Regions from separate parts of the Homo sapiens genome. Here regions 2, 3, 4 and 5 are each linked to region 1. Evidence: fine-mapped expression QTL. A gene starts in region 1. Each other region holds a variant in brackets. All regions are shown on one strand. Distances are from middle to middle. Region 1 holds the start of ARSB (arylsulfatase B). Region 2 overlaps ARSB (arylsulfatase B). Region 3 overlaps ARSB (arylsulfatase B). Region 4 overlaps ARSB (arylsulfatase B). Region 5 overlaps ARSB (arylsulfatase B).

Evidence for each region. PIP is the estimated chance that this variant, and not a neighbour inherited with it, causes the effect.
Region 2: its variant is fine-mapped to the expression of ARSB in fibroblasts (GTEx, PIP above 0.99).
Region 3: its variant is fine-mapped to the expression of ARSB in whole blood (TOPMed, PIP above 0.99).
Region 4: its variant is fine-mapped to the expression of ARSB in whole blood (TOPMed, PIP above 0.99). The same link has a PIP of 0.9 or more in blood mononuclear cells, iPS cells, monocytes and testis.
Region 5: its variant is fine-mapped to the expression of ARSB in fibroblasts (GTEx, PIP above 0.99).

What each region holds. Positions count from the first base shown.
Region 1 is chr5:78,983,625-78,987,745 of GRCh38, reverse strand. ARSB (arylsulfatase B) reads left to right here and starts at 2,436. Exons shown (of 8, transcript NM_000046.5): 1 at 2,436-2,809. The coding sequence starts at 2,498. RefSeq lists a silencer at 2,254-3,113.
Region 2 is chr5:78,905,125-78,909,245 of GRCh38, reverse strand. All of the region lies in intron 4 of ARSB (arylsulfatase B), which reads left to right. Among named protein-coding and RNA genes, the nearest start is that of ARSB, 78 kb to the left of the region's middle. The variant T/C (reference allele first, on the strand shown) is at 2,243.
Region 3 is chr5:78,783,018-78,787,138 of GRCh38, reverse strand. The region is part of intron 6 of ARSB (arylsulfatase B); the gene reads left to right. Among named protein-coding and RNA genes, the nearest start is that of LHFPL2, 140 kb to the right of the region's middle. The variant C/T (reference allele first, on the strand shown) is at 2,061.
Region 4 is chr5:78,882,537-78,886,657 of GRCh38, reverse strand. ARSB (arylsulfatase B) reads left to right here. Exons shown (of 8, transcript NM_000046.5): 5 at 831-1,074. Among named protein-coding and RNA genes, the nearest start is that of ARSB, 100 kb to the left of the region's middle. The variant A/G (reference allele first, on the strand shown) is at 1,745.
Region 5 is chr5:78,871,418-78,875,538 of GRCh38, reverse strand. All of the region lies in intron 5 of ARSB (arylsulfatase B), which reads left to right. Among named protein-coding and RNA genes, the nearest start is that of ARSB, 110 kb to the left of the region's middle. The variant T/C (reference allele first, on the strand shown) is at 1,752.

The DNA.
Region 1 (4,121 bases):
GTCTGATTCCAGGATTGGGAGAGGAAAAGTGCAAGTTGAGGCTAGAAAATCTCATTGTATCAAAATGTGTGGACATGCTCAAAGATTCAAGAGGACATGCCAAAAGGATATGAGCCAGATTGTAGGGGCTCCCACTGGCCAAAACAGAGAAAATTTGAGCATTGAAATAACTATAGCAAAGGATTATAGCATATTGATTAAAACAAGAATTCATGAATTCATAGTGAAATAAATAAATGAGAAGGGAAAGTTCTTCCTTACAGTAGAAAGGCAACTCATAAATATAGAGGAAATGAAGGAATTAGAAAATCAGCATTTGGTAGCCATCCTAATTATAACTAATTGAAGCAAGAAGCAAGATACTAAAACTGGTAAGCAAAATAATGTGTGTGAGGCATAATAGGATATTTACATATTCTCAAATTATCTCTCCATAAAATATTTATTAATTACAAGAAGAAAATATTAACCTTACAATGAGGAAATGTTTACCTTAACAAAGTTATCCCATAAGAAAGCAATTCAGCATCATGTGCCTCTTAATAGGAAGCACCGAGAAACATACCACATCACTTTTTGTGGTATTCCTGCACAAATCCATAACCTCTATCTAATTGTGAAGAAACATCAAACTCCAATTGAGAGATTTTATAAAATAACTAGCTTGTACTGCACATTATGTGTTCAATACATAGATGGAAAATAGAATTAACTCTTCAATTTGCACATTTCCAGAGCACTATTAACATATGCTTTTATTTTAAAAACATAGGACGTAAGAATCTGTGCAAGTTTAGCTAGTTTCAGGGGAAGTTGGTTAAAGGAGGAATTGTTCCTGCAGATTAGCACCCATCAATTATTTCTTCTTAATTTTTATCAAGGAGAATAGGAAGGATTACGGGGGAGAAAGACACAAAACCACAGCGGAAATTCTCAGTCCTTCAAGGTCTTCTACAGGGTGTTTAAATGAAAAGTTCAACCCTTGACATAATGAGTCAAACAGTTCTCTCAAAAGTTATTCTTTGAATTTAATGCTAAAATTTTCACTTTTTTCTGCTAAATTTCATTGATTCCACTAGAGATTAAAGTGCATACAACATAAACTAATCTACTTCATGCAAAGAAAAAAAGTGTATGTAAGAGGCAAACATTTCATGTGTTAAAGGATTCTTGGGGAAAAAAAGGTAAAATCATGACCCTCATACAAATATAAAAGTGAATACATGATTTTATTTAACTCATTAATAAGGAAATTGGTAAGGTGTTAAAACCAATTCAAAGGACAATCCAAAGAACAGATCAGGAATACTAAAATAAATATGCAAGCGGAGGTGAAACTGTTTTCCTTGGTAGTGGTGGAGGGGAAGGATTGCTACTCCGCTGGATAAAGTTCATTTGTGTATATATAAATAAGAATTATTTTCCATTGTTATTTATCTATAACTTATAAAGTTGTAAACAACTTCCACGGAATCAGACTCAACCTGGAAGGGTATGGTCTCTAGGCAATGCAAAAATTTTCCCCTACACCTGTTAACAACTATAATATCTCCAGACAGAGTAGACAGAAAGTCTGGATGGCAACGGGAATCTACTGGTCATACGGCTAACTTCCTAATTCAATAAGCACGTGACTAAAGGATTTTTTCCTTCCACTCAGATATTTCAGGCTAACTAGATACTGTGTGCTTCTTAGTGTCACTGCTTAGTGGGGGAGCCAGCTCTGAGTGGGGTCATATCCGGACAAGCGAATGAGCTATTTATTCAATGACCACGCAACACTCCAAATCCTCCCAGGGCAACTTGAAAGTAACCGCACCTTCCAAAGGGCACCGTGCAATCAGACTGTGTGTTTGGCCTCCTGTTTGCTAGTGGGGAGGAAGCGGCTTCATGGGTGTACACTACGCATAAATGAATGTGAAAGGCTATTTAGACCTCTGCCTTTTCACCGTCCTCCCACCTGCCACAGGCTGGGCTCTTGTGCTAGAAATGACTTGCTAGCTAGACATCATGGTTCAGGATCTGAGTCAGAGGTTTAACCATTTATAAGCTTTTTTCTTATGAAAAATTGGCACTAATTATAATGTCTAACTGTCAGAGTTGTTGCAGGCTTTACAGGAGACGCGGGCTGTGAAGATGCTTTGTAAATTGTGAAGCGTTATTAAAGAACACATCTTTTTTTTTTAGGAAACCACAGTGCAAATTTAATTGCCGGGGAAGATAACGGGCCTTGGTGCCCTCCAAGCGTCAGCTGAGTTTCCAAGAAGCCGGGCAGCGGGCGCCCGCGGGTTCGTCTCTGGCTCCTCCTCCGCCACAGCAGCCGGGGGCCCGGGTCGGAGGCGGCGGGGGCCGAGCGCCCGGCCTCGCAAGCCCACGGCCCGCTGGGGGTGCCGTCCCGCGCCGGGGCGGAGCAGGCCCCGGCAGCCCAGTTCCTCATTCTATCAGCGGTACAAGGGGCTGGTGGCGCCACAGGCGCTGGGACCGCGGGCGGACAAGGATGGGTCCGCGCGGCGCGGCGAGCTTGCCCCGAGGCCCCGGACCTCGGCGGCTGCTCCTCCCCGTCGTCCTCCCGCTGCTGCTGCTGCTGTTGTTGGCGCCGCCGGGCTCGGGCGCCGGGGCCAGCCGGCCGCCCCACCTGGTCTTCTTGCTGGCAGACGACCTAGGCTGGAACGACGTCGGCTTCCACGGCTCCCGCATCCGCACGCCGCACCTGGACGCGCTGGCGGCCGGCGGGGTGCTCCTGGACAACTACTACACGCAGCCGCTGTGCACGCCGTCGCGGAGCCAGCTGCTCACTGGCCGCTACCAGGTACGCGGCGCCCCCGCCGCCCGCGCCGCCCCCGCCCCGCCTTTCGCCGGCGCCCTGCCGCTCCTACCCGGCCCTTGAGGCCGCGGGCGCTGGCAGGCGGGGCTCGGACCGCCGACCCAGTTATGGGTCCCGGCGGCTTCTCGCCCCAACCTCGCTCTTCCAGGCCGGCAGCCCGCCGCGGCCTCTGCGCATGCCCGGCTCTGGCGCCCCGCGGACCCGCGCCCCGGCCGCCGGGTTGGGCGGGTGGCTTTGTCTTTCGTTTTCTGAAGCTCCGGGCGAAGGGGTTTATGGGAATGCCGGGTGCTGGGCGCCGCGGCCGGCAGGCGGAGCGGTCCTGAGGTGGGAGGCTGGGGAGGGCGTGGGCTGGGAGCAAAGACGAGGGGAGAGGTAAAATGAAGGGGTGCTCGCCGTGGGTGCGACCCTGGCCCGTGGGAACCCAGCGGTGATAGGTTAGGAGTGTCCCACCAAAGATTATTTTTTTCCAGGTTCTCAACACCCCTGGAATGAAACCTGATGCTAGGTTGATTTTTCTTAGGCTGCTGACATTCCTTTCACATGTAACCTTGTATTGAACTCTTCTGAGCATCTTCATTATCGCTTTAAAAGCTTCCCTTTAGGAACGGCTCCACAGTTAACGAAGGAAATATAAATGTAGAGCGTGCATAGATGTTAGATGGCTAAGAATATCAAGAACATTTGCATAGCACTTTGTTGTTTTTAAAGTGAATTATTGAAACAGTGCATGAGGTAGTTGTTTTTACCCCGTTTTACAGACGAGGCAGGAAGCCTGTAAAGGCTCGTTGGCATAAGAATCGCACAGCTAGAAAGTGGTCAAGGCAGTGTCCGTTGTGCTTTTCCTGCATCCACTGGTCGTCCCGGGCTTATGAAATTGGCCTTTTTTCCCCTCAATCTGAATACGATTGTCATATTTCTAAGACCCTGAAGTTATTATGACCATATTAAATACAGTAAATGGGAACTGTTGGATACCACCTGCATGCCTTCACAGAGTACATATGCTGTTTACTCAACAAAAATATTTTGAGCTTACTGTGCTACTGACAGGGGATATATATTTGAATGTTGCCCTCCCAAGTGTGTGTTCGCATAACCTGTCAGATCAACCCTAGCCTCACGTGGTCCTAAGATCAAGAGAAGGGAGGGCTTACTTGTGATAAAGATATGCGCAGTGGTCTGAAGGCTTTTATAAAGAGGAAAGATTGGGTGTTGCTAAGGGTGAGAAATAGCTGTAGCCAAGGTTAGAAATGGGAGTAAAGGATGCTTCCCTTCACCATCCACCTTAGTACTTTTG
Region 2 (4,121 bases), 78 kb after region 1:
TGGAAAAAAAAATGTGTGAGCATAAGCTAATATCATAAATGAAATGATGAAGAAGAGGATAAGGGCACATGGTCCTAAGTGAGGAAACTTTGACCCAGAAACCTTTTGCAGTGACAGAAGTAGACCAAGAGTCCAAGTCTCCATGCTTCCAATTCAGTATTCCTTGCATGAAATGTCACTGCCTTTCGAGACTATACCGTTTACCTAATTGGTTGGATCTTTGTCAAGAGCTTGATCCAAGTGGAGTTTCTTTGTTTAATATATAAAGCATTTGCAAGTCCTTTCAAGGGCAGCACATAGTTTTATTTAACTCCCTCAAGCCCTCTCACCTCTGTCAAGTTGCACCAGGAAATTCAAGGTCTAGCCAAAGGCCCCCAATGAGTTAAAAACCCAACCATCCTGCAGAGTAGAAGAAATTAATGTCAAAACCAGATGTTCCTCTGTGGGCCTTGCTGGATTCATAAGTCAGGATAAAGCCAGCGTGGATGCATGCATGTCAAAAAAAAAAAAAAAAGTCTTGGCCAGTGTTGTAGAGAAATGAAGTGTTGTTTCATCTGCAGTTCCTCTCCAGTCCTTGCTGGTTGGGAGCACTGGCTCCCGGGAGACTGGTGGCCCTGACACTCAAGCCATTAACTGAGAATGCTCTCTAATCCCTTGTTTTCATTGTTGGTGTTCCGGCCAGGCTGCCCGCACAGAGCCTGCCCGTTTTCATTGGCTGCAGGAATTGTTATTGGAGTGGCTGACAGCTGTCTGCCAGGCTGCCTGAAACTGCCTTCCTGTGCTCTCCGCTGCTGCTCCACTTCACAGCGCTATTGTTCCTGTTGAGCCTTTTCTTAAAATCTTTCCCAGCTGTATCCTGATATGGTAAACCACTTAAATTAGCTCCAGATTGTTCTGTTTATTTTGTGTTAGATAAGCGACAAAATACAGTCCCAGCGGCAGACCAAGAGGAGAGTGGAAGTCGGGGGAGGGGGGTCAGAGGACACAAGGTCTTTTACAACACAAGGTAGAGTTCCCAGACAAAACTGTGAGAGGCACAAGTATGATACAGTCACTGGCCTGACCATTTATACGTGACTCTGATGGGCCAGGTGAGCAATAACGTTGCATCTGCGCACACCTCATTCCAGAAAAGAAAATCAAGACCCCAGCATACAGCTACACTGGAAGGGAGCTAAATTTCTATTATTGGAAATAGACACAGTATTGCTGTCAGGTTGGTTGCCATGCCAGCTGTCCAGGTACCATGCTTGATGCCCTGATTACCACAAGACTTCCCCCTTCCCCCTGCTTTTAATTATCCTTCTGTAGTGCAGTGTATGGTAACTGATGGGCTCAAAACTGGCCCACATTTGCCAGTCTCCCTATATGCTCAGCACTTGAAAATGAGTCTTCTCTGCTGTAATTTAAAGCTAGAAATCCAAAGACATTGAGTCACCAGCATAGGTATTTTCCACACAGCTGCAAGTGAAACTTCACAATGGACTTGGCCGCTATTTGCTTACACTTGCCATCTGTGCAACCGCTCTACCCGTGGCCTCCCCCGCTTTGTGGTTGTCTTCTAACAGGAGCAGTCCACGCAAAGCCTTCCTGAATACTTAACAAAATTTTAAAAAATATAATAGATACTGTCCTAGCATGAAGGCGCTGCCTTTGTGATTTTTAGGAATTAACCCAAATAAAATATGAAAAATAAACTACCGAGTGCTTTAACGCAGCTAAAGCATGCAAGCAAAACCAGCAACCAGCTGAGTTCCGACAGTTACTGAGAGTTTTGTATGTGGTAATTCAAGACTCCCCAGGAAAGATCTCATGACTCACTCCAGTGTGGCTGGGCCTCCAGTCCTCACTCTGAACCAAAGTCCTGGAAACACTTTTCCACCACGTTGAGAGAAGGCGAGGGAAGAACAGGGTCAGGAGTGATCAAATGCCCTTAGAAACAGTCTCTTTCTTTCCTTTTGGGAAAACAAACTCACTGTGTAATAAAAAGGTACAAAGCCAACTTTGGAATAATAATCACCCCGCCCCATCCCCTTGCCCTCTGATGGAAAGTGCCTTGTCTTCTCCATCAAGGTCTAGCTGGGGGCTTGAACGGCCTCCGTGTCACCTCTAATTCCCCAGTTTTTACCTTGTTTCCTTTCTCTGTATCTTTTTTGCCCTTAGTTGTGTACAGTCTTGTATTTTTTCACATAGGCTATGCTTTCTGTGGATGTTGCCTCCCTCGAAAGCAGGGACCATGTGT[T/C]GAACCCCTGTTGCCTTTTCCCAGAGTAGCGGGCACCTAGCAGGTGCTTAATTAAGGTGTGTCAAATAATTGTTTCCTTTTTTATTCTTACCTGACATGAAGTATGCTCCTGTATCAATTCAGATGAAGGTTTAAAAAAAATCAAGACAAGTATCACAAGTTCCCTTAGCCCATTCTCATTAAAATCATGGGCACCACCTTCCCGTGCTCACCAGGATGGAGGAAGTCAACAAATATCTTTCTCATTGATTAAAAACTCTGGATAATACTGAAAGCAACTATCTGAGGCTTCTTAAAAGTACTTAGGTTGGTGCTAAAGTAATTGAGGTTTTCGAAAACTGCAATTACTTTTGCACCAACCTAATATAACAGCAGGGATGATAAGAATAGGGACAGAGAAGAAAACAAAATCAGGTGAATGGAGAATGGGGAATAAAGTCAAAGCTTCATGAATCCCTTGTGTGGTGAGTTTTGGAGGTTTATTTTCTCTCCTCTATCTCTTGGCTTTGACCTAAGAGCCAATGGAATTATGGAACTATGCAGCAGGCACTGGCAGCAACATCTCCAAGAGAAACCTCCTACTTCTAACCAGAGGTCTAGGAAAGTGGGCTCTTGCTCAAGAATATGGGGAATTCCTATTTTATTTGTTTTTTCTTTTCTTTTAATTTTTTGAGATTGAGTCTCACGCTGTTGCCCAGGCTGGAGTACAGTGGTGTAACCATAGCTCACTGCAGCCTCTACCTCCTGGGCTCAAGTGATCCTCCTGCCTTAGCTTCCCAAATAGCTGGGACTGCAGTCATGCACCACTACACTTGGCTAATTTTTTTTTTTTTTAATTTTTTATGTTTGGTTAGCGATTGGATCACACTATGTTGCCTGGCTGGTGTGAGCCACAGTGTCCAGACTGTTTTTTCTTTTTCTTTCCCTTTTCTTTCTTAACTCTACCCCAAGACAGGCCCCAGTTGAAGATCTGCATTGGTGTTGTGGTGGGGTGCAGGCACCTAAAATCTCAAAAGAAGACCCACATTTCTGACCGGAGTGTGAGATAATCTCTGTTATTTTCCTCTTTTTTTTTTTTTTTTTTTTTTTTTTTGCTACTTTGCTCCCAAAGGCAACCTCAGTTATGCAGAAGTGCATGACAGAATGGGGAACTACAACCTAACAGAAACCTGTTTTTCTGATCAGAGAAACCACATAAAGGGGCCCCTGGAGCGGAGGTTGGGGGTGGATCTGAAGGATCTAAAGGGAGAGAAGAACTGGAGAAGAGGATCCCCTGATTCTGTGTATGAGCTAAGCCCCAGGCTCACCTCCAAGTGCATATATGCCACACAGGCCCAAAGGAGCAAAGCAGAGGCTTCGAAAACTCAACTGCCATGTGAACCACTGCCCAGGTCCTAGATTAACCCCTGAGTGGCACATGCGCTGGGCAAACCCAAACCTCATAGCAAAGGCTTTAAAAACTAAACTGACATTAGAGCCACTGTCCACAGAAGGTGAGACAAAACTTGTGGTCTGAGTCTCACTAGGTTGATTCTCTGCTTAACCAAACAAACATCAACACCCTCGAGAGGATTTTAACTAGACCTAGAGGCTCAGAACATGGTATTCAAAATGTCTAATAGACAGTCCAAAATTACTCATTATACAAAAAAAAAAAAACAGGAAAATACGAGCAGTACTCAAGGGAAAAGACTAAAAATAGATTATTTCAGCTGTGATGAGCTCATTTGAGATGATCATCCAAATATTGGTGTTGTCAGACAAAAACTTTAATGCAGCTATTGTAACCATTCTCCATGAGACAAAGTTGAACACTCTTGAAATGAATGGAAAAATAGCAGTGAAATAGAAACTAAAGCCAAACAAATGAACAAACAAA
Region 3 (4,121 bases), 200 kb after region 1:
TATAGATAGATAGATAGATAGATAGATAGATAGATAGATAGATAGATGGTTATCGATTTTTTAATAACTATAGATCAATGGAATGGCATCGAGAGTCCAGAAATAAACCCTCATGCTTATGGTCAATTGGGTTTTGACAAGGATACCAAGACAATTAAAGAGGAAAAAAATACTCTCTCAGACAAATGGTTCTGGAGACAACTGAGATATCTATATACAAAAGGATGAAATTGGGTGGGTATGGTGGCTCATGCCTGTAATCCCAGCACTTTGGAAGGCTGGAGTGAGAGGATTGCTTGAGGCCAGAAGACAAGCCTGGGTAACATTGCAAGACCCCCATCTCTATAAAAAATCAGCTGGGCATGATGGCATGTGCCTGTAGTCCCCGCTATTCTGGAGGCTAAGGTGAGAGGATCGCTTGAGCCTAGGAGTTTAAGGATGCAGTGAGCTAAAGCTAAGATCGCACTCCAGCCTGGGTGATGGAGTGAGATCCTGTCTCTAAAAAGAATAAAATTGAGAATGTAATACAGAACACATTTCAGCCATTTTTTAATGCTCTGCAGTTACTCGAAAGGTTAAACATAGACTTACCATATAACTCAGCAATTCTGCTTCTAGATATATACCCAAGAGAGGTGAAGATGTACATCCACACTGAAATTGTACATGAATGTTAATGGTACATTACTCGTAGTCGCCAAAAAGTATAAACAAAGAAGTGTCCATTAATTGATGAATAAAGAAAATGTGGTATATTTTTGGCAATATACAGGAATGAAAGGAATATTATTCATTATTTAAAAAGAATGAAGTACTGATACGTGCTACAAAATGAATGAACCTTGAGAACATTATGCCAAGTGAAAGAAGCCAGACACGAAAGGCCACATATTGTCTGATCCTATTTATATAAAATGTCCAGAATAGGTAAATCCAGAGCACAAAGTGGGTTAAGGGTTGCCTAGGGCTGGAGGGTGTGGGAGTAAATGGGGATTAACTGCCAATGGTGCAGGGTTTCTTTCTGGGGTGATAAAAATGTTCTAAAATATGTTACAGTGATGGTTATACAACTTTGTGAATATATCATACTAAAAACCATAGAATTTTACACTAAAAATGGGTGAATTTGATCATATGTGAACTATATGATATACTCTTTAAAAAATATATTTAAATTCCTCTTATGTCTCCCTATTGATTAGAAGGAAAAGTTGCCACCTCTCTGACCCTTCTTCTGCAGCCACATCTCCCTCTGACCATAATCAAGAAGTACTCCTTGCATTTATGAACTCATGTCATTAGATCGGGCCCATCCAGATAAATCTGAGATAATCCTCACATCTTACAGGTCTTACCTATAATCATACCTGCAGAGTCCCTTATGGCATGGAAGGTGATGTATTCATAGGTTCTGGGAGATTAGGATGTTGACATTTTGAGGAACCATTATCCTGCCTATCATACCCTGTTTTATACTTCTTTCTATTGCATAAGAGTCTCACACATGTTGACAGATGGATGGAAAAAATATATTATGCAGGTACTAACAGCAGCAACAATGACAGCTAAAAACTGAGCTATCTATACATCAGATAAAGTAGATTTAAAGGAGGAAAGCACTATTAGAATTAAAGAGGGAGTTTTCAAAATAATTATCCAGTCATAGAAGAGATTTTTAACATACCTCTCTCAGTAACTGATAGAACAAGCAAACAAACAAAAATGTCCATAAAGATATAAAAGATTTGAACACCATAGTTAACAAACTTGACCTAAATGATATACAGAGCATTGAGCCCAACAACTTCAGACTACATGTTTTTTACATTGGTGCTTGGATAATTCATAGTCCGTATTAGAAATGAAAATGTTGAATATCTGTTATTCAAAAGGTTATAAAAAAAATAACAAATTAAGCCCAAAGAAAATAAAAGGAGGGAAATAATAAAGATAAAAGAAGTTAATGAAATAGAAAACAAACATACTACAGATAGGATCTACAAGGCCAAAAGTTTGTTGTTTGAAAAGACCAATAAAATCAGGCCAGGTGCGGTGACTCA[C/T]GCCTGTAATCCCAGCACTTTGGGAGGCCAAGGCGGGCGGATCATGAGGTCAGGAGTTCCAGACCAGCCTGGCCAACATGGTGAAACTCTGTCTCTACTAAAAATACAAAAAATTAGCTGGGCATGGTGGCATGCACCTGTAATCCCAGCTACTCAGGAGGCTGAGGCAGGAGAATTGCTTGAACTCCAGAGGCAGAGGTTGCAGTGAGCCAAGATCGCACCACTGCACTCCAGCCTGGGTGACAGAGCAAGACTCCATCTAAAAAAAAAAAAAAAAAAAGACTAATAAAATCAATTAAACACTAGCAAAACGTATCTTGGGAAAAAATGAAAAGCATGAATTGCCAATATCAGGAATAAACAGGCAATATTACTACAGATGCTACAAACATTTAAAAGATAATACAAAACAAAAGTTCACATGTACTACACAAATTCCTAATAAAATACAAGTTATCAAAACTGACAAAGGGAGAAATAGAAGATCTAAATGGTCCTATACCTGCTCAGGAAATTAAATCAATAATTTCAAACCTTCCCACAAAGAAAACTCTAGGCCTAGATGGCTTTACCAACAAACTCTTTTTTGTGGATGAATAGTATTCCATTGTGTCTATATATCACATTTTCTTTATCCATTCATCTATTGATGGACACTTAGGTTGATTCCATATCTTGACTATTATAAATAGTGTTGCAATAAACATGGAGGTGCAGGTAACCCTTTAGTATACCGATTTCCTTTCGTTTGGATAAATACCTAGTGGTGGGATTACTGCACTGTATGGTAGTTCTATTTTTAATTTTTTGAGGAACCTCCATACTGTCTTCCATAATACCTTTACTAATTTACACTCCCACCAACAGTACACACATACATTTTTAAAGCATAAAACAGTGCTATATATTATCCCTTGGCACATATGTATTCTGCATTTTAAAATGGCTGAAGGATGCACTGAAGTCACAATAGCAGCAGCCTCTAGAGGAGTAAATGAAAGGACAGGGTTTGAGGATAAGAACAAAGGAGACTTCAACTTCATTTTTATTGTCCAGTTTCTTTTATTTTTTTTAAAAAAAGGCAAACATGGTAAAATGTTAACATCTGTTCATTTTGGGTGATGGCTCATAGGGTGTTAGTCATATTATTCTTTGTAATTTTCCCTTTGTTTAATTTCTCAAAATGAAAACAATAAAGTCAAGATAATAGTATCTTTCATAGTTTAGTCTTAGGCTTATTTATTGTTTAGGTATTTTATGTTCCTGTTTGTCTTAAGAAAAAAATGTGTATAAATATAAGTATAGATGAGATAGTTAAATTTCCTTTTTTTGTTTGTGTTCACAAAACATGCTTGTTTTATTTAACATTCTTTGGTATCAAAATGTGGCCTTCATACAAACTTGTGAGGAGTAAACCATGAGGGTTCACAGTTTTACCACAGTCTGTATGTTAGCAACCATTTCCTGTGATAGACATGCTCATGCACCTCAAGTACTAGAAGTATCCATTTGTATTGGAGCCAAAATATCCGCAAGCAGAGAAACAAGAAGTCAAAAATATTTTCCTCTTTGGTGCTAAAGATTTGCTGCTGTGTGATTGTTGAGACTGAAGTTCTGAAAGCACCAGTGTTTGCCGGATCTGTCTCCAGCTTGTCTCTACAAGGTCATTTCCAAAAGACTGTCAAAAGAATGGCATGTCCCGCCTTTTCCACCACCGACACACCCTGCATGAAAACCCCAGGAGCACAGAAGTCCTGCTTGGGTGAGGATAAGGGCTCTCTCAAAGTCTATTATCGAAGGAAGGCAGACAGATGGGTTAACCACTCCAATGGAGTCTATACTTTTACAGACATATCACATATTATGACAATTAATTATTAGGCTGGTGGTTCAGCAACCTTTCGAAGTGATCCCAAGATGATTGCTGTGACCATATTTGAAAAGCTAACAGATAAATGTGGGCTTAAAACAGACTATATGTTATTCAGCTAGGCCTCAACCATAGGCATAAGTAGGAGTGAGGTGAGGGCCCTTGTGGACCCACCAGGGTCTTCCACAAGA
Region 4 (4,121 bases), 100 kb after region 1:
ACTTTTTCTTTTCTACTGCCCACTTTAATGTCTTAACTCTGAGCCCTCATTTGGCTGGGAAGATACTTAACTTCAGTTACTCTAGTAGCTTCTACCCTGTCTTTGCCAAGATCTCCCATTCCTTCTGTTGTCTTGGAAGAGAAACCTTCTCTTCCCTGGTATTGTGCATAATGAAACTTTATTTCACCATCCTGTCAAGAGGGGAAAAATTTTTTTCACAATTATATTTTTCCATCTAATGTTCTGTTTACAGAGACATTTATCAACCACTGGAGAAATACTCAGCTTTCACACTTAAGAAAGAGATATTATTGCCAGAGTGTAGAGTGTTAATTCATTTTCCAGTTTAAATTGTAGAATTTTTTTTCCAAGAGGAAAAGAAAAAGGTCAGTTTTTGTCTCCACCTATAAGGAGCATTAAGTCACTAAGTGAAATTCCCTTAGTTTTCTCTTCATGCATGGAGAGGGTCCCAGCTTCCATGGACTCATTCTCCCATGCTATACAAAGTTACACAGGTGTATTTAAAGTTTAGTGGATTGTTTAGCTTAGGGATCTCCAAAGCGCATATCATCGAGGGACTGCCTTGTTTTCCAGTGGCTCTCTCCATGGAGGATTTAAAGGTAGATATGTATCACACTGGGCCTTACTTATGTCTGAATAATGAAAGGCTATGTCAATGGGAAAAGGGAATTTAGGGTGGGAAAAGGCAAGGAATTTTCTTTTTTTTTATTATTTAAGCACCATTTAGTAACAATGTACATACAGTCTCTGTTCTTAAATGTATTTAAGAGTTAACATCATCCTCATGCCAAGACCTTACTGTGTTTCAGATAACGGAGGGCAGACTTTGGCAGGGGGTAATAACTGGCCCCTTCGAGGAAGAAAATGGAGCCTGTGGGAAGGAGGCGTCCGAGGGGTGGGCTTTGTGGCAAGCCCCTTGCTGAAGCAGAAGGGCGTGAAGAACCGGGAGCTCATCCACATCTCTGACTGGCTGCCAACACTCGTGAAGCTGGCCAGGGGACACACCAATGGCACAAAGCCTCTGGATGGCTTCGACGTGTGGAAAACCATCAGGTACCTACACCCTGCCCTTTTTCCTCCCAGGACAGAAACTCCAAGAGCAGCCTGACTCCATTGAGCAAGAATGATAGCTTTTGTGTTAAAATGATAGTTCAGCTTACAAATACATGATTTTTAAGAAAAATAAGTGCCTTTAGAGACATTGTAAGTATATATATTTTTAAATTATAAATTTGAGATTGTGGGCCTGTGTTTTACGTGAAGAACAAGATTGTCCTCAGCCCATCGCCCTCCATGGAAGGTCTTTGAAGCTGCGACGTTTTGCTTAGAAGTAGGCTAGGGTATTGTTAGCTTCCTGCAGGGGGTCAGGGAACTAGTCCTGTTGTCTGCTGGAAGAATGGAGGACAAAACAGCAGGGAAAAAGCTGGAATAGGAACTAGGGATATGTTTATTTCCATTTATTAGCAAGTATCTAACAAGCACCTACTATGTGCCATACCTTCTTCTAGATGCTGAGAAATTAGGAATGAACAAGTCAGTCAAGATCCTGCCTCTCAGGAAGCTGTATTCTAGTTGGGGGAGAAAGATGTTGGACAAATGAACACACAGATGAGCAAGATGACTGCCAGTTGTGATAAGTGCCAGGAAGGCAAAAAAGTATGTTGTGATAGATAGAGCTGGCTGATGTGAAGAAGATACATCAGGGAACAGGACCCAGACTCAG[A/G]TTTGGAAATCGTGATGGTCTTTTTCCTGTTTAACCCCCACAGTGTAGAGCAATAGCCCCCAAGGTTGGGAGGCACATGCCTTAGAGGTTGCAAGATGTTCCCTTGGAGTACAGGAAGAAAATTTCAATCTTGTATTTGTATTAATATCTAATTTCATCTCATCCTTTTTAAAGTATATGTTTTTTAAGACACATAATATATTAGTAGACTTGTACATAAATCTAATTTATAAATAAATATGCATATATTGGAGGTATTATTTTTACGGGTGGAATGACCTAGTGCAATGGTTTTCAACCTCTGTTTGGTGTTACAGCTCTGTTTGGGGTTAGCAGCTGATTGACTGTCCCTTAGTGGCCAGGGGGAGAGGACTTCCTCAGGCCATCTCTTCATCCCACTCCAGGTATCCCAGCTCAAGAATAGCAGGTTTCAGGTCTCTAGTTATAGGAAATACACAATGGAGTATTTAGGAGCAAAAAGCCATGATATATTTAACATACCCTCAAATGGTTCAGAAAAAAATTGTGTGTGTGTGTGTGTGTGTATGTATGTACATGTGCACAGAGAGAATTCAAATGGACTGCAAAATTAAATAAAAGAATATAGGTAAGGTGCATAAGTATTCTTTTGTTATGTCTTATTTTTGCAACTTTTTGTAAATTTGAAATTATTTCCAAATAAAAGTGTTTTAAAAATAGGAAGGTCTGACAGCACTGCACCCACATTTCCAGAAGGCCAACAACTGACTAGAATCAAATAGCTGCTGCCTTCTGTAGATGAAGTATCCACCCTTCAAATCTTCAATCTCTATTGTTCCCAAGTTCCAATACAGATCCACTGCACTCATTTAGGTTACCTACTTAGTCTCTGTAGGCATTTAAGTTTATAGTCCCTGCTGAACATAATCATAGTATTCAACACTCTGGAAATACCATACTTTGACCAATTTCCAGTTGCAAAATATATAGATTATTTCTTATCTTTTTATATTATCAATTTTTCTGTAATTAATAATTAATGTTAAAAAATAGTAGGGTTCAGCAGCCTAAGATTAGTTTTTACAAAGGAAGTTTGATAGCTATTCAAGTTTAAACATTAAAGTTTAAAGTCCTGTGAGTTCAGGAATGGATAGAAGAAGTGTTCAGCCAGGCCGCTCAACCTCTCACAACGTGGAGTCTATGGGTTCCTCTCTAATGGGCCTCACCCAGAAGGGTGAGACTAGGGAAGGTCCTCATCTCTTACAAACCCAAGGGAAAATCTGATTTAATTAGCTTTATAACCTTCTTTCAATTATTTTGCAACTCAAAGTTCCATGTTTTCCTTCGAGAATTTATTAAATTTTAAAGATCACTTTTCAAGCAGCAACATTTATAGTATTGGGTAGCCATTTCTTCACCATTTCTAAACATTATTTTGGTTCTTATGAGTCATATTATTTTCATATTATTTTAAAATCCTCACTAGCCTCAAATTGTTCCCTCTTATTCTTGCCTGAAAAGTTGATTTGTCAGTTTGGAGACAGTGATCAGTTTATGATTTGTCATTTCAAGAACACTCTACAGCATCCAAGTCACAGAAAAAGTAATGCCACTGAACAGCTAAGCTGAGAAGCAAAGCAGTAAAACCTTTTCTCTCACCAGAAATTTTGAAGCTTTGTGCTCATTATGTGCTCATTCATATGCGATGACTTTTTTTTCTTTTTCTTTGAAACATTTCTGCCTCTATCCATGATCTAAACTTGATATGTTAAATTTAAATTTAATTTCCCCAAGCGTGAGTACTATATGTCATTGTAGATAATTTGCAAACTACAAAAAATAAAAATAATTGGCTGGGCGTGGTGGCTCATGCCTGTAATCCCAGCACTTTGGGAGACTGAGGTGGGTGGACCACCTGAGGTCAGGAGTTCAAGACCAGCCTGGCCAACATGGTGAAACCCCGTCTCTACTAAAAATATAAAAACTAGCCGGGTGTGGTGGTGGGCACCTGTAATTCCAGCTACTCAGGAGGCTGAGGCAGGAGAATTGCTTGAACCCAGGAGATGGAGGTTGCAGTGAGCCAACACGGTGCCACTGCACTCCAGCCTCGGCGACAGAGTAAGACTCCGTCTCAAAAAAAAAAAAAAAAAAAAAAAAAATCACTCAAATCTTACCTAGAAACAACTACTATAAACATTTTGTCATATTTCCTTAGAATTTTTCTTTTCAGCATTTTTTTACTACATCTTTTTTCCTTATTTAACAGACCATTGGTTTTTGATTGTGTCATCCAAGAAACTTACTGCAAACACTATTTCAGTCACTGCACATTCAATCGCATGGATATACCTTGATATACTTACCCATTCCCTTGACTTTCTTTTTTAGTTTTTTAAAA
Region 5 (4,121 bases), 110 kb after region 1:
TTTGCCTTTACCTGGTTCACTTTGCTATAATAATACTCACCAGTAGACAATAAACTAACGTCTACAGCATCTTGAGCAGAAAGGATTTAACAAGAATTCTGTATATTATTAATATTATTTTTGTTTGAATGTAATATGTTGAATGTATTTATGTTTGAATGTTAGAATATTAATATTATTTATGTTTGAATGTAATTATTTATGTTTGAGTTCTTTCATTTGAAAGAATGTATTCTATGGGGAATGGTGCAAATGGTGATTTTTTTCTTTGAACCATGTATTTAGAAGTGCATTGTTAAGTTTCCAAATTTTGGGTTTTTCCCTAGTTAAATTATTGATTTCTAGTTTATTTCAGTTGTGGTTTTGAGGACCACAAATAATTGAAATGCTTTGTATTATTTCAATTATTATTATTGTTTTTTAACAGAGACAAGGTCTCAATTTGTCACCCAAGCTAGAGTGCAGTGGTGCAATCATAGCTCACTGCAACTTCTGCCTCCTGGGCTCAAGCAATCCTTCCACCCCAGCCTCCCAAGTAGCTGGCACTACAGGCATGTACTGCTATAACCAGCTAATTTTTAAATTTTTATTTTGTAGAGGCAGGGTCTCACTATGTTGCCTCAGCTGGTCTCAAACTCCTGGGCTCAAGCAATCCTCCTGCCTCAGCCTCCCAAAGCGCTGGGATTACAGGTGTGAGCCATCACTCCTGGGCTAATTGTTTTAAATTTGAGACTTGGCCTAGTAGATGGTCTTTCTTGTTGTCCACATCAGGTGTAATTGAAAAGAATGCGTATTCTGTAGTTGTTAAGTATAGTGTTAGGTTTTTCTTTATGATCCAGTCTGTAATGTTTTAGTAGATGAATTTATACATATTTATAAATATTTTTATTTCTATTCTTAGTTTTTTCATTGTTTTGTTACATTTACTTTTTATCTTTGACCTTTTATTTAGTAGTTCTTTAATATTTAGAAAAATTTATATTTTATCCTACTGTTTATCATTATACAAATATCTTTATATAATTCCTTAGTCCCTTTTTTCTTACTTAGGTTCCACTATTTGGTTTGTCACATTTAAATGACATCTTCAGCTTCCACTTATTACCCATAAGGAAATCAAGCAACTTATGTAACTTTTCATTCTCTTCCAGTTTTGTGATTTAAGTAGTGTTATTCCTACTGTATCAGAGCATGTAATATGTAATACTGTTCTCTCTTTATCCACAATTTTGTTTTAGTTTTAGATCTTCAATAATATATTCAATACTGACCACCCATCCACTTCTAAAGTGTTCACAATTATCTCTTAGTTGGAGGAATTCATCCTTGAATAGATTTCTCAGGATTCTTTGAATTCTTGCATGTTTATTAAAACATTTTCTACAACCTTGATAATTGAACACCAGCTCAACCGGTTAAAATAAAACCCTTGTCCCACACTTTCTTGCTTTGAGTTTCTTGAAAATGTTACCCTAATCTTTGCTTGTTTTCTATGTTACTGTTGATAAGTCTAATATCAGCCTGATTTTATTCCTTTGCAAGTGACTTTGTGTTTTTTGTCTGGGCACCCAGAAGATTTTTTATTATCACTATTATTATAGTTATGATTTAAAATCTAAGAATTTTTCCAGATGTGTCACAAAGGTGACCCTACTGTGTCAGTTTTCTCAGATAAAAGTGAGTTATTTCACTTTGTATATTCAGATCTTCTTTTATTTCAGAGTTTTTAAAAATTACAGTTTTAGGCCGGG[T/C]GCGGTGGCTCACGCCTGTAATCCCAGCACTTTGGGAGGCCGAGGCGGGCGGATCACAAGGTCAGGAGATCGAGACCATCCCGGCTAAAACGGTGAAACCCCGTCTCTACTAAAAATACAAAAAATTAGCCGGGCGTAGTGGCGGGCGCCTGTAGTCCCAGCTCCTTGGGAGGCTGAGGCAGGAGAATGGCGTGAACCCGGGAGGCGGAGCTTGCAGTGAGCCGAGATCCCGCCACTGCACTCCAGCCTGGGCGACAGAGCGAGACTCCGTCTCAAAAAAAAAAAAAAATTACAGTTTTAAATATTATATTCTACTGTTTTGTTTTTCTTCTTCAGGAACTCCTAGTTATAGGTATTATTGAATCTTCTTTACATAAATTTGGTTTCTGTCAATTTCTCTCGTATCCTCTTTGCCTCTTTATTTTTTCTTTATTTTGAATTAATTATCCTTTCTCTTTTAATTTCTATTCTCTACACGCTTTCACATAGAGAATGTCATGTATAATGTTTTGTCATTTCTAAGATTTTGTCCTTTTTTTCCCAGTTCCCTTCCTTTAAAAAGTGTGATGTCTGAGTTTTACAATTTCTGAATCATGGTTGTTGTTTCTTTAATATTGGCAGTTGATGATTTCATTATATTTAATTCATGTTGAAATATCCTGTAATGGTTTTCTTCTGCCTTATGACTGTTTTTCCATAGTAGGAGAATGTTTTCATTTGCCAAATTTTTGAATTCTCATTTTCTATTTTTTTTAACTCGTATGGTAACTTTGCATAGATGCTGAGTTCTTTTTGGTTTTGTTCACGTTTATGTATGTTGGCGTTTCCTGGATCTAAGATAGCAGGCAATCCGTAGGAGTGGGATTTGGACACTTTCATTTACTTCAGGTGCTTCAAGAGCGCTGTGTATTGCTATAGTGAAGTGCAGTTTCTTTGCTAAATGTAGCCCCTTTCTTTTTTTTTTTTTTTTTAATTATACTTTAAGTTTTAGGGTACATGTGCACATTGTGCAGGTTAGTTACATATGTATACATGTGCCATGCTGGTACGCTGCACCCACTAACTCGTCATCTAGCATTAGGTATATCTCCCAATGCTATCCCTCCCCCCTCCCCCTCCCCACCACAGTCCCCAGGGTGTGATATTCCCCTTCCTGTGTCCATGTGATCTCATTGTTCAATTCCCACCTATGAGTGAGAATATGCGGTGTTTGGTTTTTTGTTCTTGCGATAGTTTACTGAGAATGATGGTTTCCAATTTCATCCATGTCCCTACAAAGGACATGAACTCATCATTTTTTATGGCTGCATAGTATTCCATGGTGTATATGTGCCACATTTTCTTAATCCAGTCTATCATTGTTGGACATTTGGGTTGGTTCCAAGTCTTTGCTATTGTGAATAATGCCACAATAAACATACGTGTGCATGTGTCTTTATAGCAGCATGATTTATAGTCATTTGGGTATATGCCCAGTAATGGGATGGCTGGGTCAAATGGTATTTCTAGTTCTGGATCCCTGAGGAATCGCCACACTGACTTCCACAATGGTTGAACTAGTTTACAGTCCCACCAACAGTGTAAAAGTGTTCCTGTTTCTCCACATCCTCTCCAGCACCTGTTGTTTCCTGACTTTTTAATGATTACCGTTCTAACTGGTGTGAGATGATATCTCATAGTGGTTTTGATTTGCATTTCTCTGATGGCCAGTGATGGTGAGCATTTTTTCATGTGTTTTTTGGCTGCATAAATGTCTTCTTTTGAGAAGTGTCTGTTCATGTCCTTCGCCCGCTTTTTGATGGGGTTGTTTGTTTTTTTCTTGTAATTTGTTTGAGTTCATTGTAGATTCTGGATATTAGCCCTTTGTCAGATGAGTAGGTTGCGAAAATTTTCTCCCATTTTGTAGGTTGCCTGTTCACTCTGATGGTAGTTTCCTTTGCTGTGCAGAAGCTCTTTAGTTTAATTAGATCCCATTTGTCAATTTTGGCTTTTGTTGCCATTGCTTTTGGTGTTTTGGACATGAAGTCCTTGCCCACGCCTATGTCCTGAATGGTAATGCCTAGGTTTTCTTCTAGGGTTTTTATGGTTTTAGGTCTAACGTTTAAATCTTTAATCCATCTTGAATTGATTTTTGTATAAGGTGTAAGGAAGGGATCCAGTTTCAGCTTTCTACATATGGCTAGCCAGTTTTCCCAGCACCATTTATTAAATAGGGAATCCTTTCCCCATAGCTTGTTTTTCTCAGGTTTGTCAAAGATCAGATAGTTGTAGGTAAGCGGCGTTATTTCTGAGGGCTCTGTTCTGTTCCATTGATCTATATCTCTGTTTTGGTACCAGTACCATGCTGTTTTGGTTACTGAAGCCTTGTAG